Linked DNA regions of Homo sapiens: regions 2 and 3 are each linked to region 1. Evidence: fine-mapped QTL for protein levels in blood plasma. A gene starts in region 1. Each other region holds a variant in brackets. All regions are shown on one strand. Distances are from middle to middle. Region 1 holds the start of CACNA2D3 (calcium voltage-gated channel auxiliary subunit alpha2delta 3). Region 2 overlaps CACNA2D3 (calcium voltage-gated channel auxiliary subunit alpha2delta 3). Region 3 overlaps LOC124909381 (a long non-coding RNA gene).

The links. PIP is the chance, under the fine-mapping model, that this variant and not a neighbour inherited with it causes the effect. Protein levels are from the aptamer-based SomaScan assay of Sun 2018.
Region 2: its variant is fine-mapped to the plasma level of the CACNA2D3 protein (Sun 2018, PIP 0.95).
Region 3: its variant is fine-mapped to the plasma level of the CACNA2D3 protein (Sun 2018, PIP 0.95).

Annotation. Positions count from the first base shown.
Region 1 is chr3:54,119,530-54,124,753 of GRCh38, reverse strand. It overlaps CACNA2D3 (calcium voltage-gated channel auxiliary subunit alpha2delta 3), which reads right to left and starts at 2,202. Exons shown (of 38, transcript NM_018398.3): 1 at 1,919-2,202; 2 at 1,160-1,241. The coding sequence starts at 2,040. LOC124909381 (a long non-coding RNA gene) reads left to right here and starts at 1,312. Exons shown (of 2, transcript XR_007095914.1): 1 at 1,312-1,697. RefSeq lists a silencer at 3,396-3,445.
Region 2 is chr3:54,877,470-54,882,693 of GRCh38, reverse strand. It overlaps CACNA2D3 (calcium voltage-gated channel auxiliary subunit alpha2delta 3), which reads right to left. Exons shown (of 38, transcript NM_018398.3): 19 at 3,605-3,676; 20 at 3,283-3,344; 21 at 1,831-1,898. CACNA2D3-AS1 (CACNA2D3 antisense RNA 1) reads left to right here. Exons shown (of 7, transcript NR_046666.1): 4 at 3,750-4,006. Among named protein-coding and RNA genes, the nearest start is that of CACNA2D3-AS1, 21 kb to the left of the region's middle. The variant C/G (reference allele first, on the strand shown) is at 3,112.
Region 3 is chr3:54,097,174-54,102,397 of GRCh38, reverse strand. All of the region lies in intron 1 of LOC124909381 (a long non-coding RNA gene), which reads left to right. Among named protein-coding and RNA genes, the nearest start is that of CACNA2D3, 23 kb to the left of the region's middle. The variant C/T (reference allele first, on the strand shown) is at 2,875.

The DNA.
Region 1 (5,224 bases):
TATTGGCGATTTTTAAACCATAATAACTTTTGTCATTCCATGGTGGGCCAACGCTTTATTACGATATTTGGATTTCATGTGGCAAACTGTTTCATATACTGTCCCCAAAAATGCTACTCTCTGAAGGGGAATGCCATAAATAAAATACGTACTTGGTTACCAGGCAGCATGCATAACACATATGGTACATTGGCCCAAAAATCATATTTTAAAATGTTTAAAAGTTAACTTAACAATTTAAGCTGTTTGTACCCATTTTCAGAGAATTATTCCCTAAAGGCCAATTTTATTTTCTATCATCAAGAGAATACTTTGATTAATCCTGTTGATCTGCTAACTTGAAATTCTTTGAACCCCTCTAATCTCTCCTCCCAGACCCATTTTTTTTTCTTTATTTCCTGAAGGGGAGAACGAAGGACCATTTATCTCACAATGTAATTTTAAGCTTATGCTTAAAATGCTGCCTATTTGAATTAAAATTGATGCAGCTTGTGATAAGAACCTAATAATCAATTCTCCATTCTCATTACTCTCCAGAATTACATGGATGCAGACCCATTTCTTAAGTTTGTGGACTACTCTCATAGGTTATTACCCGGCAGTGCAGCTGAGTGGAAAGATAACCACATTCATTCTCCTTATCTGCAATGATGTAATGCATCCTAGCCCTGGGTCTAGATGATTGGGGAATAATGGGATTGTACAACTGCAGGGATGACAAACAATAGTGCAGCGTCTTTCTCTGATACACTGAACCCCACGCCTCCAACGCAAGGTGAAAGGCATCACAAAATAGGCACTGAGTCTGCCCCTTGGATGAAGTTAGCATTTTTTGGCCCGAGGAGCATCTGCTCTGGCACTGAAACAGCAATACCGACACGGAGACGAGAGCCATGCAAAAACACTCAGTTTCCGAGCCCCAGCCAGGACAGTGCGAGTGAGTATCCTGCTTTTCTTTGTGGTTAGAATCAAGTGTCATCTAAAAATAACCGGTTGGTAGGAAGAAGTCACTGCATAGTACAATGCCAAGAAACCCGGGGATCAGAGAGTCCTCCGATAACTGATGCTGCTCGGGGCTCACGTTTGTTTGGAAAACTAAATCTGCCTCCATTTTCTGTGCCGGAAAAATCATCGCTTCCTGCCACCACAGAAACCTTACCTTTTGCAGAAGCTGGGAACCGGAGTACTTAGCAGCAATGGATTTTATCTCCCCACCAAAAGCCGAGGCCCAGAGCTTCACCCTACAGGGAGAAGGGGCACAGGAAGATATGTAACACCCGTGTCACAGTCAACACGCACGCACACGCACACGCACACATGGGACTATGGCTGAAGGAGCAGTGCGATGTAACATGTTTTAAAAGAAGAAAAGATAGAAAAAGCGGCTTGGTAGAAACTGCCAGCACCAAAACTGCAAAGCGCAGCGCGGGAGGGGGCCCGAGGGGGGTCGCGGAGTTAAGAATGCGCAAAGTCTCCCAGGCTCTCTAAAAAGACCACTGAGTTTCATTCGAACCACTGCCCGAGGACTCGACCCCCCAAACTGGGCATCACCTGGCAAATAGCAGTCAGAAGAAATCCACCCATCCCCCCCCCAAAAAAAGAAGTGGGGCGGCAGTAGAGCAAAGAGGGGGGAAATTCAGCGGCCCATGGAAGTTGGATTCGGTAACCAGGCTCCAAAGTTGGTGCCGTCACTTGAGGTGAGCCTCTCCAGATCTCACTCGGCAACCTGCGGGCAGGGGCCAGAGCATCCCACCCCGGCCTCGCCGCCCGACGCGGGTCCCGAAAGGCAGGTGCGAGCGGCGAGGCCGACGCCCGCGGCGGGTCCTGCCCAGCCGCACCTGCAGGCGCCCAAACTTGGGCACAGTGGGTCGCAGGCGGCAAGGTCCCCTCCCCGGGCGGCGCAGGAGCCGGCACTTACACGGAGAGCGGTATCTGCTGCTCCGAGCGCACCACGTCCCCCAGCGCGGCGTAGAGAAGCGCGGCAGCGAGAAGCGCCGAGGCCCCCCGGGACGCGCGGCGCGGCGAGCCCGGCCCGGCCATGCTGGGCTCCCTCCGACGCGCCCGCTGCGGCGGCGACGAGAGCGGCCGCGGGGAGCTGCGCGGAGCGGGCGGTGGGCGAGCGCGCGGGGCTGCCTGCTCCGCTCCGCGCCGCCCCGCCTGCCTCTCGCGCGCCCGGCTCACTTGGGGAGCAGAAAAAGGAGCGGGTGGGGGGGGCGGGGAGGGCGGAGAGGAGAGGGAGGGAGGAGAGGTGGGGAGGGAGGGAGGAGAGGTGGGGAGGGAGGCGGGCGGGGGAGGAGGCAGCGAGACGCGCCTCTAGCAGCAGCAGCCGCCCGGCCCCGCCTCGGCGGCCCCGGGGAGTCCGGCGGGCCGCGGCGGGAGGGCGGCGGGGCAGGAGGCGCCGCGCGGGCGGGGACTCGGAAACTCCAGTGTCCTTGGCCGCGGCGGAGCGCGCCCTGCCCCACCCGGGCTACTGCGGCCGCTGAGTTCTTTACAACTCCGCAGTCCGCCACCGCGGGCGCGACTCTGGGGCTGGCCCCGGGCCGGGCGACCCTAGCCAGGGTGGGGGTTGGGGGCGCGGGAGGGAAGCCGAGGGCAGGGCGCGGCGCTCCGCACTTTGCGGGCGGCTGCTAGGAGAGGGCGTAGCATGCCCGCTCCGCCCCTGGGCCGGGCGGGGTCGGGGGCCGCGGAACCTAAAGGGGGCGCGCCCTCCGCCCCCGCCGCGCGATTCTCCTGCGGGGAGGGAGCTGGGGAAGAAGCAGAAATCTCAGAAAGGAGCACAGGCTCGCGGCGGCAGGCGGGATCGCACGCGGGGCGGATCGGGCTGGGGATGGGACTGGGTGGGAGCTCGGGGCTCTGGCTAGGGCAGCGCTGCGTGACCGCCCGCAGCTGCTCCTCCGGCCGCGGCGCCCGACAGGGGAAAGCACGGAGGGCGGTGCTGCCACCACGGCTTGGGCGCACCAGCGCGGGGCTCCCGGCATCCGGCCGCAGCGCAGCGGCCCCCTGCGCGCCCGACCCAGGCCCCGGGGCTCCCCAGCGGCCGCTGCCTTCGGAGTCCGCCCGGCTGCGGTGACTGGTGGGGACCGGGATGTCAGGGTTGAGCGAGGAAGCCAACGCGGCGCCGAGTCGATCCTGACCGGGGGACACCCTGGATTTCGGGATAAAAGATTTCTCCGAGCCTGGGGGATTGCCTGCTCCCCACTCCGGCGCCCACCGCACTGGGCAGGAGGCAGTGAGCGCCGGAGGAGGCGCCTTCTCGCCGCCCTCAGGGGCGAGGAGAAAGGAAGCCGGAGAAGCCCCTGCGCGTTCTGGGAACCAGGCTTCTCCCCGCCTCTCTCGCCGCTGCCCCCACCCCGGGACCCAGCTTGCAGAACCCCTCTCCCCCGTGCGAGGTATGGGGTGTGATTGGGAACTTTGTGGAGCCCTCGCGCAGGCTGGCGGTAAAGACCGACCGGAGTGAGGCTGAGTCATCCTTGCCCGGCCAAGCGCAACTCCGGTGACCCCAGCAAGGAGTGCGCTCCTAACGTCGCCGGGGCTCCCGGCGCACCAGACACCTGGGTTCATATTTGCATGCCTTTCTGCAACCAGGGCTTTGCTTTCTGCCCCGTCACCCGCCCTTGGCCTCAGCATCCTCAGGTTGCAGGGAAGTAAGGGCGGGCTCCAGCTTCCGCCAGGTGGTGTCCGGCTAGGAGCCAGGCCGGCTCTCCTTTCCAGTAGTCCCTGGAAAAAGTTACCCCTGCAGATGTTGGGCTTGATCTCAGAGTTGGCAGCGAGGGAGAAGGACTGCTACCGAGAGGCTCTTAGTGCTTTTCCCGAGTGCGGGCAGACCCGAGCTCCCCTGGGCTCTGGCAGGTCGCGCTCCCACCTTGGGGGGCAACGCAAGGAACAGGCCCCTCTCCAGGAGCGCCAGGTGCGCCCCGCCCGCGGGCAGTGTCTACAGCCTCTACGGATGACTAACCGGTTATAATGAATTCTCCGCTTCTGTGCATACCCTCCGCCTGAGGAAGCGTGCCAGCCCTTTCCAAACCGAGCCAAGCGCGGCCTGACCCCCGAGGCAAGGGGTCCCAGGAGTTGACCCTCAAATTGGGGGTTAGAAGAAAATGTGTTTTCCTATCAGAACGCGGGATCGTTCTTCCTAAATGAAAGCATAGTGAATGAACCAGTGAGTGAGTGCATGCTAGCTCTTAGTAAGACCATCCGTTTCCCACATGGTATCTATATGATGACGCCCTTCATGCCTTCACTCATTCATGTAGTCAATAACTGTCAATCAGCCTCTATTGATAGGTACAGTAGGACATGCTGGGAAGCCAGTAGTGAACAAAGCAGGCTCTCTGCCCTCACCGAGTTTATACACTACGAAGAGGACAGGCTTTACTGCAAAAACCATAATGGTAAATGCACAATTATACACTTTGACAAGGGAAAAACAATACTGTGTATGAAGAAAAAGTACCTGTGACACCCATACTATTGTTGTGCCTATTAACTGATGAGAACATCGAGGCACGGCAAAGTCATACAGCTTAAGTCATATTTAAGCAACTGCTTGACTGCTGGACTATACTGAAGACCACCTGGGCACCAAGGTCATGAAGACATTTCGTAATAAAGTCACTATGCGTTGCCAGCCTGACACAGGTGAATTTCGCAGTTGTCTCGGGCAACTAGAGAGTAGCGATGAGAGGCCAGGCACAGGAAGTCACAGTCCCAGGAGGAGAGTGTTTTGAGCATTTGTAACGCAGGCCATCTTAGGCAGAACATTATGCACGTTACATTTAAGATGGATCCCGCTAACCATATCCTAGTATCTCAAAAATAAAAAATATTTAAACTAATACTAATAAACTCAGAACTCAAAGTGTCCAAAGATTTGGGGTCTTACCACTTACACACTGTAATATTCTTTCCAGAATCACAAAAATCAGTGCTGAAAGGGATCTGTAAGCAATCTAGTCTTGCAGTCTTATTTTAACAGAGAGGAAACTTGAGGCCCAGAAGGATTTAGCCACTTGTCCAAAGGCACACACCCCTTAAAGAGAATCTCCTCACTTTGAACCAGGGAGTTCCTGCAGCTACATGAGAATAAGGGACCAGGAGCACCTTCCAGTAAGCCAAATGCAGTACCAGGGCATTGGGCACTACTTGCCATTTTCACCCAAAAGCTTATATTTCAACACCCAACTCTCAGTTGAAGCATGGAATCCAGAGAAATAAAACTTTCATT
Region 2 (5,224 bases), 760 kb before region 1:
GCTTTCTTAAGTTCTATTACTCAGCAAAGCTGGCAGGATTGTCAGTCTTTTTATTTACAGAGGACCAACAGAGAGAGGAAGATATGACCTCATTTGGGTGGATAAGCAGCCACTCTCCCCCTTGCTGAGGATTTGAGCTAATTTTTTGCACAGTGGTTACAGTTAGCTCTGAAATTCTCTGTGACTGCTTAGCCTCACAGCTGTGGAACATACAGGAAGATAGTGACTGAAAAAGAATCCAAAAGACAATGCAAAACAACTGTGTGTATCTGTGTCTCCATGCATGTATGTATGTATGTGTGTGTGAGAGAGAGAGAGAGAGGAAGGGAGGGACAGGCCCATGTATTGAGGATTGACCAAGGGAGCAGACGCATGAGAGGCAGTTAATATCTCTTAATAACCTCTCCTATTGTTCTGACCATGAGTTGTTTCTTCAGCGTGACCTCACATGGCTTAGACATGAATTTTCTGGCTTCATGGGCAGTGATGTCCACAGAGCCAACATGGCCCACAGAGGCAGAAAATTCTAGAAGTGAAAACATGATCCTGAAAACACATCCTGCAGAGTGTCTTGCTCAAGTCACAGAGTTGCCTGTGTTCTCTGGCATGTCTCTGGGAAGAGAGACCACATGGTTAGCTCTTTGGTGGGCACACTCTGGGTTGTGCCCAGCTCACAGTGAGCCTCTCTACTCTCCTTTCTGCCCCTATACGATCTCACAAGCACTTGGGAAGCACAAACCAACATCCCTGAAACAACACGGGCAGGGACCACTGGCAGTAAATCAGAGGCTATCTAGGGGTTTGGCGTCTCAGGGAACATCCATCTCCTTCCTCACGCCCTGTGGCATCATCTGAGGGCGCCATGGATGGCCCAGCTTCTGGAAACTCACCACATACATGTGTAATCAGTTCCGACCAATTAAAACTTTGCTTATAATTGACCTTCCCATTCCTGGCTGTCCTCCCTAAAGACATCCAGAAAGACTACTGTTCTGGGCCCACTCCTCCTCTGTGGACATGCAAAACCTAATGACCTGCAAGTGAGTCACTCAAGGCCACTCAGGGAGTGGTGCCCTTCAGAAACAATGTCCACCACCCCTGTGAGCTCCTAATGCTGGGACAGGTAACCTCTCTGAACTACTAGGGAGCTGGCAGATGAAAAGGATAGCACATGTGACAGCAATTTTAAAATTTAAAGAGCTATAACAACTGCTCCTGTTTACTGAGAGTTTACTGTGCCTCTGTGCTTTATGAAGATAAGAGGGTCTGGGAACTTCAAGGTGCTACTTACTCCCTCTGACCTATGTAAATCATTTAAATGGTCACATTTCCCTTTGGGCCAGGGCTGCCATGAAACACAAGTGAAATACGTGGCTCAACTGTGTAGGAGAGACTAAGGCTCTCATATCTCTGTTTTCATGGTTTCCCCTGGGCATGAGTTATTTCATAAATTTGTATTTCTCCCAAGTACTGATTTTTATGTATGAGAAGAATATACTTGAGGGATGATTCCTATTTACTGATACTCTGCTTTCATCCATAATGCTGTTGACTGTGAGTTACTCATAGTCAACAGCTTTGTGGATGAAAGTAGAATATAAGTAAATTAAATCACAACCATGAATCGGAACTCCTGTCATTCTGAAATCTAGGCACACCAGGGAAGAAGAAAGGTATTAAGAATTATCAAGTAGGCATTCGTTTGAGTGGAATGTCCAAGGGACTGGTCACAGGTGCGGACAGATGAACAAGTTCTTCAGCTAACTCAGTAGCTAGCTCCCGAGCTTTCCTCCCACACCAAAGGATAAGACGAGCCAGGCAGTATCTTACCTTCTTCGATGGTTACATTCCCTCGGAAGAAATATTTCCCATGACCTCTGGAAAGCGCCACACCTAAACTGTGCAGAGAGACAAAGCAAATCTTGAAATCCCTGGCATCGACTCGAATAGACTTGTGGGCTAACATTTTTTAATTTTCCATTTTTCACATTTCCATTTTATGATCTGTCAACAATTTTTCCAACTGTTTACTTTCAAAACCCCACTGATTATCACTGGTGTTGGTTTTTCTTAGGTTCAATCAGCTGCTTCAAAGTAACTTCTGATCAGAAATGCCAGCAGCAATTGGCTACTCTTTGTGTTTTCAGAGTTGTGGCAAACTGCTCGCCCTTCCAGCAAGCCCTTCTCTCAGATGCCCTCCCAAGGACCATGAGCCCTGCTCTTTATACACCCTTGTCCTGCATTCAGCCAGAGATGGGTCTCTCCAGCCCCTAGACTTTGGGACTCGGGAAATTGACCCCTGCTCAAGGGCAAAAACAAAAACTTCCACTACTACATGAGTGTAACCACATTACTGTGTTGCAGGCTTCTTTGCCCAATCCTCTCCCTAGTCTAATAGGTTTTTCACACTCACTGGCTTGATTTAAGATCCATTCCGTTTTTATCAAAAGCAAGAGACTATGTTTTTAAAACATAGTCCCTTACGTTAGAGAGACTATTTGGCAAACCCACTTAGCAGCTCATGTGGTCCTTATTTGCTCCTGGTTCCACATGGAATCCACCCATGATCCTTGGCAGTTTAGGACAACAATGCTAGAATTTATTTTTCAGATTATTCTACAGTCAGTAAACTCCTTCTCTCCTTAGCTCTGAGACGCCAGTTCAGGAATATGAAGCAGGCTTACTGAAATAATTTTTTACAAAATGAATTACAACACTAAGTTAATAGTAGTGGGAAACTTTAGAATGCTACATACACATCTGAAAGCAGCCAATGAGGCAAAGCCATTTTTCAGGACTGTTACAAAGAGAAACAACAGGATTCAAAAGTAGACAAGCACACAAGGACAGTTCAGAGAAATGGAAACAGAGGCACAACATGTAGGAATGGATATGCCACCTCCAGGTTTGAAGGATTGTTTTTTTGGTCATGGAAATAAAAGGTGAAATGGAACTCACAAAGCAGCAAGTTCAATAGTTAAGGACCCTGGTAACCCTCTGCACTTGTCTTCACCCTTAGCGGGAACCCCCAAAGCATATTTGCTTGACAATGAGATGCAAAGCCATGGCAGATTGAGTGAGTTCTCCTAGGTGAGCCTGAACCATCTCCCC[C/G]CCTTCTGGAAAACAAAAGCAGCCTGGGAAAAGCCCCTTCCTCACTCTTTCCAGCCTTTTGGCAGGGTGTTTGGTTATCTTCAGATGATGAGCTCTGAGAGTGTCAGCAGGTTTTGTACAAACACAACTGATGGGTCTGATGGAATGTCCATGTATTATGGTCAGCTCTACCTGAAAGGAGTACCCTTGATGTCTGTATAATAGTAGTCATTTGTCATCACCAAAACCCGTTTCTAGATTGAAAAAAAAAAAAAAGTCGTAGAGAAAAGAAAACATGGTTAGTCTGCTAAGTGACGTCTTCAGAAATAAATAAAAATAAATGGACACACTATGATCAGGTTAACAGTACTACATGAATCTTGTTTGAGATAAGTAAAGACAAGAGAAAAATGATCTCAGCGAAAGATATTTATTCCAGATATAGCTTTCAAAGCTAATTTTTCACAGTGGTTTGTTTTAAATTAAGCAGCAAAAATGTTTGAGAAAAATGTACCCCTTTGTCCACTGTCTTCTTCACCTCCATGGAAAACTTCCCCGTCTTTCGATTCACCATAGCATTTCTCAACTAAAATGATAAAAGAAAAGTGTGTTAGTTCTTCCCTGGGTTATCATGTAATCTGGACATCTTGCATCCTCAGCGTGCAGTGGAGCCTCCATATTGAACTTACACCTCGAAAACAGAGCTTCTGAAGAATAAAACACCCAACTGCTCATGTACAATGGGAGACAGGCTAACAACAATAAATAAATGACCTTCATCTTTAATTTGGGGAGCTCGTGTAAACTTCAGGACAATAACAAAAGAGCCTTGGCGATACTGATGAATCCCGGGGGTCAGAGCGTGAACTCCTGGAGACCCGCTGAAATGCCGAGCAAGAACGTCTCTGGGGACAAGGTACGTTTTCAAAAAGGGTACTGATTTGTCATGGAGAAATCACTTTTCAAAACGTAATCAAGTTAAAGACGTTTTCCTACACAGTAGTTAAAAAGAAGAAGAAAAAAAAAAAAAAAGGCCAAGCATTTGGAAGACAGGGGTTAGCCTTTCCTAAGATGAATCATCTTTAAATGCTCTCTGAGAAATCTGGGCCAATTAATGACCTTGCTGATGAGGCAGTGAACAGGAGCGACCCTGTATCTGATTTTTTGGAGGTCCTGTTTAGGAGCAGCGAGCCTGGCTCTCCTCCCCCACCCCCAGCTGACCTCATCTAATTACATGTGGCCCTTCCATGAGTTCAGAGGAGGACAGCAGACGCAGTGATGAAAGATGTGCCGTCATGGGCACCAAGGCAAGACGACAGAGAAGGCCAGTTAATGGAATAGGAGCAAACGCTGACATGCCACAGCCTGTCAGGAAAGGCTCTCTCCCCACCCCTCTCTTGTCTTTTTCATCTTTTCCCCTCTTTTCTCCTTTGAGGAGCTTGAGTAAGATCTGGCCGATAGAAAACTGCAACACTAGCAAGCAACCTAAATTTGATTCGAGGCTGTCTAGATTTGGGTTTGCATTCTCATCTTCTGTGTGAGTGAGTAAAGGCATAATTTTTAGCTGGAGGCATGTATAAAATAAAACATATATTTTACTCTAGATATTTTTTTAACAACACATAATAGGCATTTCTGGAAATATTTTCCCATTTTAACTTTTGTGGTTTTGGACAGGGAGAGCTGGTCCTAATTAAGTCTACTTTCTAACTTTTAAGAACGGCTCGATTTATCTTTAACATGGTTTTCATTTTTCCTCTTTCTGGTGCCTGCCTAAAGCCATTTGGGACCTTCTCCTCTCACATTCCCCAGGCAAACTAGAGATTAGGTAAGCCTCGCTGTGTCTCCATGCCACCCCACCCCCAACTCCCAGTAGCACAGAACAATCAACATGGGGGTCTGGGAGTGTCCAAGGCCAGGGTCACTGATGCCTCCTTTAGTCTTGCCCTTGTCTTAAATCATAACAAAAACAGGTTATACTTATTGAACCTACTAGTGAAGCAGGATGGCACTGTAGTTAAGGAATGGACTCTGGAGCCAGAGCTTTATGATCTTGGGTATCTCGATCACTTACCATCTCTGTGACTCAGCTTCCTCTTCTGAAAAATGGAACTAATGCCAGCACCCATCCCAT
Region 3 (5,224 bases), 22 kb after region 1:
GAACTTCTATATATTTGTAACAAACAAAGTGTATTAGTCCGTTCTCACATTGCTATAAAAAGCTACCTGAGGCCGGGCCTGGTGGCTCATGCCTGTAATCCCAGCACTTTGGGCGGCCGAGGCGGGCGGATCACGAGGTCAGGAGATCGAGACCATCTTGGCTAACATGGTGAAACCCTGTCTCTACTAAAAATACAAAAAATTAGCCGGGCGTGGTGGCATGCGCATGTAGTCCCAGCTACTCGGGAGGCTGAGGCAGGAGAATGGCGTGAACCCGAGAAGTGGAGCTTTCAGTGAGCCGAGATGGCGCCACTGCACTCCAGCCTGGACGACAGAGCGAGATTCCGTCTCAAAAAAAAGAAAAGGTACCTGAAACTGGGTAATTTATAAAGAAAAGAGATTTAATTGACTCACAGTTCTGCAGGATACACAGGAAACATGGCTGGGAAGGCCTCAAGAAACTTAGAATCATGGCAGAGGGCAAAGGGCAAGCAGACATGTGTTATACGGCCAGAGAAGGCAGAGAATAGCAAAAGGAGAGGTGCTACACACTTTTAAATAACCAGATCTCATGAGAATTCACTCACTATCATGAGAACAGCATGGGGGAAATAGACCCCCACGATCCAATCACCTCCCGCCCAACCCATCCTCCAACACTGAGGATTACAATTCAACATGAGATTTGGACATAGATACAAATCCAAATCATATTAAAAAGTGAAATTTAAAAATAGCGTAATATTAGCAACAGACACCAAACAGGTAGGAATAAATCTAAGATGTACAAAACTTTTATACTGAAAACAACAAAACATTCTTGGGATAAATTAAGTAAGTCCTAATAAATAGAGATATATCATCAATATTGTTAAGATGTCCATTTTCCCAATTTAATTCAACATAAGCCCAAGCAAAATCCCAGGAGTCATTTTTGTGTAAGTTGACAAGGTGATTCTAAAATGCATAGGGAAATATAAAGAACCTAGAGTAGACAAAATGATCTTGAAAAAGAACAAAGTTGGAAGACACATGATTCAACTCTAAAACATATTATAATGCTACAATCATCAAGATAATGTATTGATTTAGGCATAGACATAAAGATAAATAAAATGAATGGAGATCCCAGAAACAGACCCATACTTACCTGGTCAATTGATTTTGAACAAAGAGTCCAAGGTAATTCAACGAAGAAAGAATAATCTTTGTACAATTGTATATCTGTATAAAAAAAAATGAACCTCAACCCTTGCATGAGACTGTCCACAGAAAGTAAATGAAATGGATTATAGATATTAGCTTAAAAGCTGAAGCTATAAAACTTTTAGAAGAAAACATGAGAGAAATATCTTCATCACCCTAGTATAGGCAAAGATTTCTCAGACTAGATATGATAAAAACTAACCAAAAAAAAGATACTGATAATTTGCACTTTATCAAAATTAAAAACATCTGTTCTTTGAAAAACACTGTAAGAAAATAAAAATAAAACAATATTTAATAAAAGACTTGTATCTAGAACATATTAAGAACTCCTACAACTCAATAGTAAGAAAATACACGATTTACAAATGGACAAAAGATTGAACAAACACTTCACAAATGAAAATCTATGGCAAAAAAACAAAAGTGCATGAAATGATTCTCATCATCATTACTTAAGAGGAAAATATGAATTTAAATCCACAATGAGTTATCACTACACACCCCTAGAATAGTTAAAATTAAAAAGCTGGACAATACCAAGTGTTGTGAGGATGTGGAGCAATTAGAACTCTCATGTACCACCAATGGGAGTGTAAAAGAGTACAACCATCTTGAGGAACACTAGAGCAATTTCTTATACTCATATACCTACCCTATAATCCAGAAATTCCTAGGTATTTACTCAGGAAAAATGAAAACACATGCCTACAAGTTATACACAAATGCTCCTAGTCCCTAACTGAAGACAATCCAACTGTCCATTAACAAGTCTTTGGATAAACATATAGTGGTATATTCATGTAATAGAATACTATTCAGCACTGAAAATGAACTGTTAACACATGAATGAATCCAACAAACAACATGAATGAATCTCAAAAACATTATGCTTGAATGAAAGAAGCAGGGTACAAAACAGTATATACTATAATGATTCTAAAATATGTGAAGTCCAGAAACAAACAAAAACTAATGGTGGCAAATTAGAAAATGCTTGCCCAGTTGAGAGGCATTGGGTAACTGACTAGAAAGGGCACTTTCTGGGGTTATACAAATGTTCCAAATTTTGGTTTAGGTGGTTTTTGCACAAGTGAATACCCCTGCCAAAATTGTAAAAACTGAATACTTTAGACATGTGCATTTTATTATGTGAAAATTATGCCTTGATTTTTTAAAGTTATGATTAGATTTATCTCTATATATTTGTGCCCAGCAATAATAATATCATTTTCAAGAGGTGCTGATCGATTCCTTTGCATTGTGATAATTGTCTTATTATAACTATCTGTAATTATATGAAGCCTTCATAAATGTGACCACGTGCAATAATAAAGTTGTAAAACACTTAAAATAGTAACTGGCAGACTGGGGAATATATTTGCAACTCAGCTCTCAAAGGGCTAATGACCCTCATATATAAGAGATCTTAAAAATATATATTTAAAATACCATAAATTCAACATCCCTTCATAATAAAAACTCTCAACAAATTAGGAAGAAAGCAGTATGGCAGTTCCTCAAAAAATTAAAAATAACAGCAGGGCACAGTGGCATGGGCCTGTAATTCTAGCTACTCAGCCGGCTGAGGCAGGAGGACAGCTTGAGCCTAGGACAGCTAGTGCCTGTGAATAGCCACTGCACTCCAGCCTGGGTGACAGAGTAGGA[C/T]TATATCTCTAAGAAAAAAAAAAATTAAAAATAGAACTACCATATGATCCAGCAATCCCACTACAGGGTATACATCCAAAAGAAATGTAATCAGTATATTGAACAGGTATCTGAACTCCTTTGTTCATTGCAGCACTATTCACACTAGCTGATATATGGAATCTACTTAAATGTCCATCAACAGAAGCATAGATAAAGAAACTATGGTACGTTTATATACATATTATAGTTTACACACACACACACACACAATGGAATACTATTCAGCTATAATAACAAAATGAAATCCTGTCATTTGTGGCAACATGGATGAACCTGGAAAACATTTTTAAACTAAATAAGCTAGGCATAGAAAAATAAGTCCCACAAGGTCTCACTTATACGTGGAGTCTAAAAAGTTGTTCTTATAGAAGTGGAAAGCAGAATAGTGGTTAGCAGAGGATGGGGGGATGGGGAGAAGCCGGGGAAGGTGAGAGATTGGTCAGTGGGTACAAAGCTATAGCTACATAGGAGGAATAAGTTCTGGTGGTCTGTTGCATAGAAAGATCACTAGAGTTAACAACATTGTATTGTGCATTTCAAAATAGCTAGAAAAGAGGTTTTTGAATGTTCTTATCACAAAGAAATAATACATGTTTAAGACAACAGATGTTAAACTGTCATCATTACACAATTATACATGTATCAAAACATCACATTGTACCCCATAAATATGTACAATTATTATGTGTCAATCATAAATTAAAAAATAAAAATGAAAGTCATAGGACTGTTAAAAGAAAACATAAATTACCAAAGTAAAGACTGCTTTACTCTGGGAGTGGAGTGCTTTCATCACAAGTGGATTTCACTCTTAGGTGTAGCCACTTTTTCCTATTTCTGGTTTTATTTTCACATTTAATGGTGGTGTGAAAAAAGGGAACAAAGAAAGAAGGGAGAGAGGAGGAAAAAAGAGAGATGCACACCTATGCTCAAAGAAAGTACTGGACAGAACTATACAAACATATTAATAACAGGGTGGAATTATGGGCCTTTTTTTCTCCTAATGGATTATCTGTATTTTTTTTTACAATGGACACGTAACTTCTGCTCATTTATAGGAAATGCTATCATGCAAATGAGAACTATTTCTGGCGAAACTATTATATCTAGAAGTACTTTAAATAATTTTCATGAAGTTCAATTTATGAGTCAAAATTTTATTCCTTCAACAGGCAATGCTTTTATTATTCTTTTATACCCACCCACAGAACATGGGTGGGGATAAATGAATTAAGAAAGCTTCATGAACTTTTTACATATAAATGCTGCATCATTTTATATTCTAGTAGCTGATAATATTTTTTAAAGCTCATTTAAATCTACCTAACTTATATTTGGAGTTTTCTTCCACAGTTTTCATCAGACATTGTGCCCATATTGGTTCCTTAAAATAGATGTAGAAGCTGGGGAGGTGGTGCATGCCTGTAATCCCAGTTACTTCAGTGGCTAAGGCAGGAGGATTGCTTGAGCCCAGGAGTTCAAGTTCAGCCTGGACAACATAGCAAGGCTCTGCCTCTAAAAAATAAAAAATAAAAAAAAAACAAAAAGTAAACAGACGTAGTAAAGAAATCCACTGGCAATTTCTATGTCCTTCTCAAAAAGCCTTTGTATTATAAAATCTTCAAATGTGCATAGAAATAGAAGATTGTCTATTTAACTCTGTATAACCATCATGTAGACTTACATTTTGTCATATTTGCTTAGTCTTTAAAAAAAATACAGATTATAACATTTCATCCCTAAATACTTTAGCAAGCATTTCTAAAATATAAGGATATCTTATAGCCACAAAATCATTTTTACACCTAACAAAATTAACAACAATTTCTTAATATCACCTAATTCTTAGACCATATTCAAATTTCCCCCATTTCTGCCCAAAATGTATTTTATAGTTATTTGTTTGAACTAGGATCCATATAAAGTCCGACTGACCATTTCATTTCTAAAATCTAGTCTTTTTAAAATCTAGAATAGTTTCCATCATCACCACTACTTTTTTCTTTCTTCTTCTTCTTTTGCTTTTTAATGTTATTGACTTGTACTTGGTTAACTGTTTCATAAAGTGTTTCCTGGAAATTTAAAGAATGATTTGACAACACCGCCAGAGAACTCACTGTAAAAATAATCATCTCAAAAAAGAAAATCAGACTCATTTTTTAATATCAAAATCTTGCAAATCTCCATCTTGAACATCAATACTATAGTGTGGAGGGGCGGGGCAAGTAGGAATATTAGAAAAATTCCATAAAACTAGCATATTTTAAGAGCTAGGTACAGTGGCTCATGCCTGTAATCCCACCTCCTC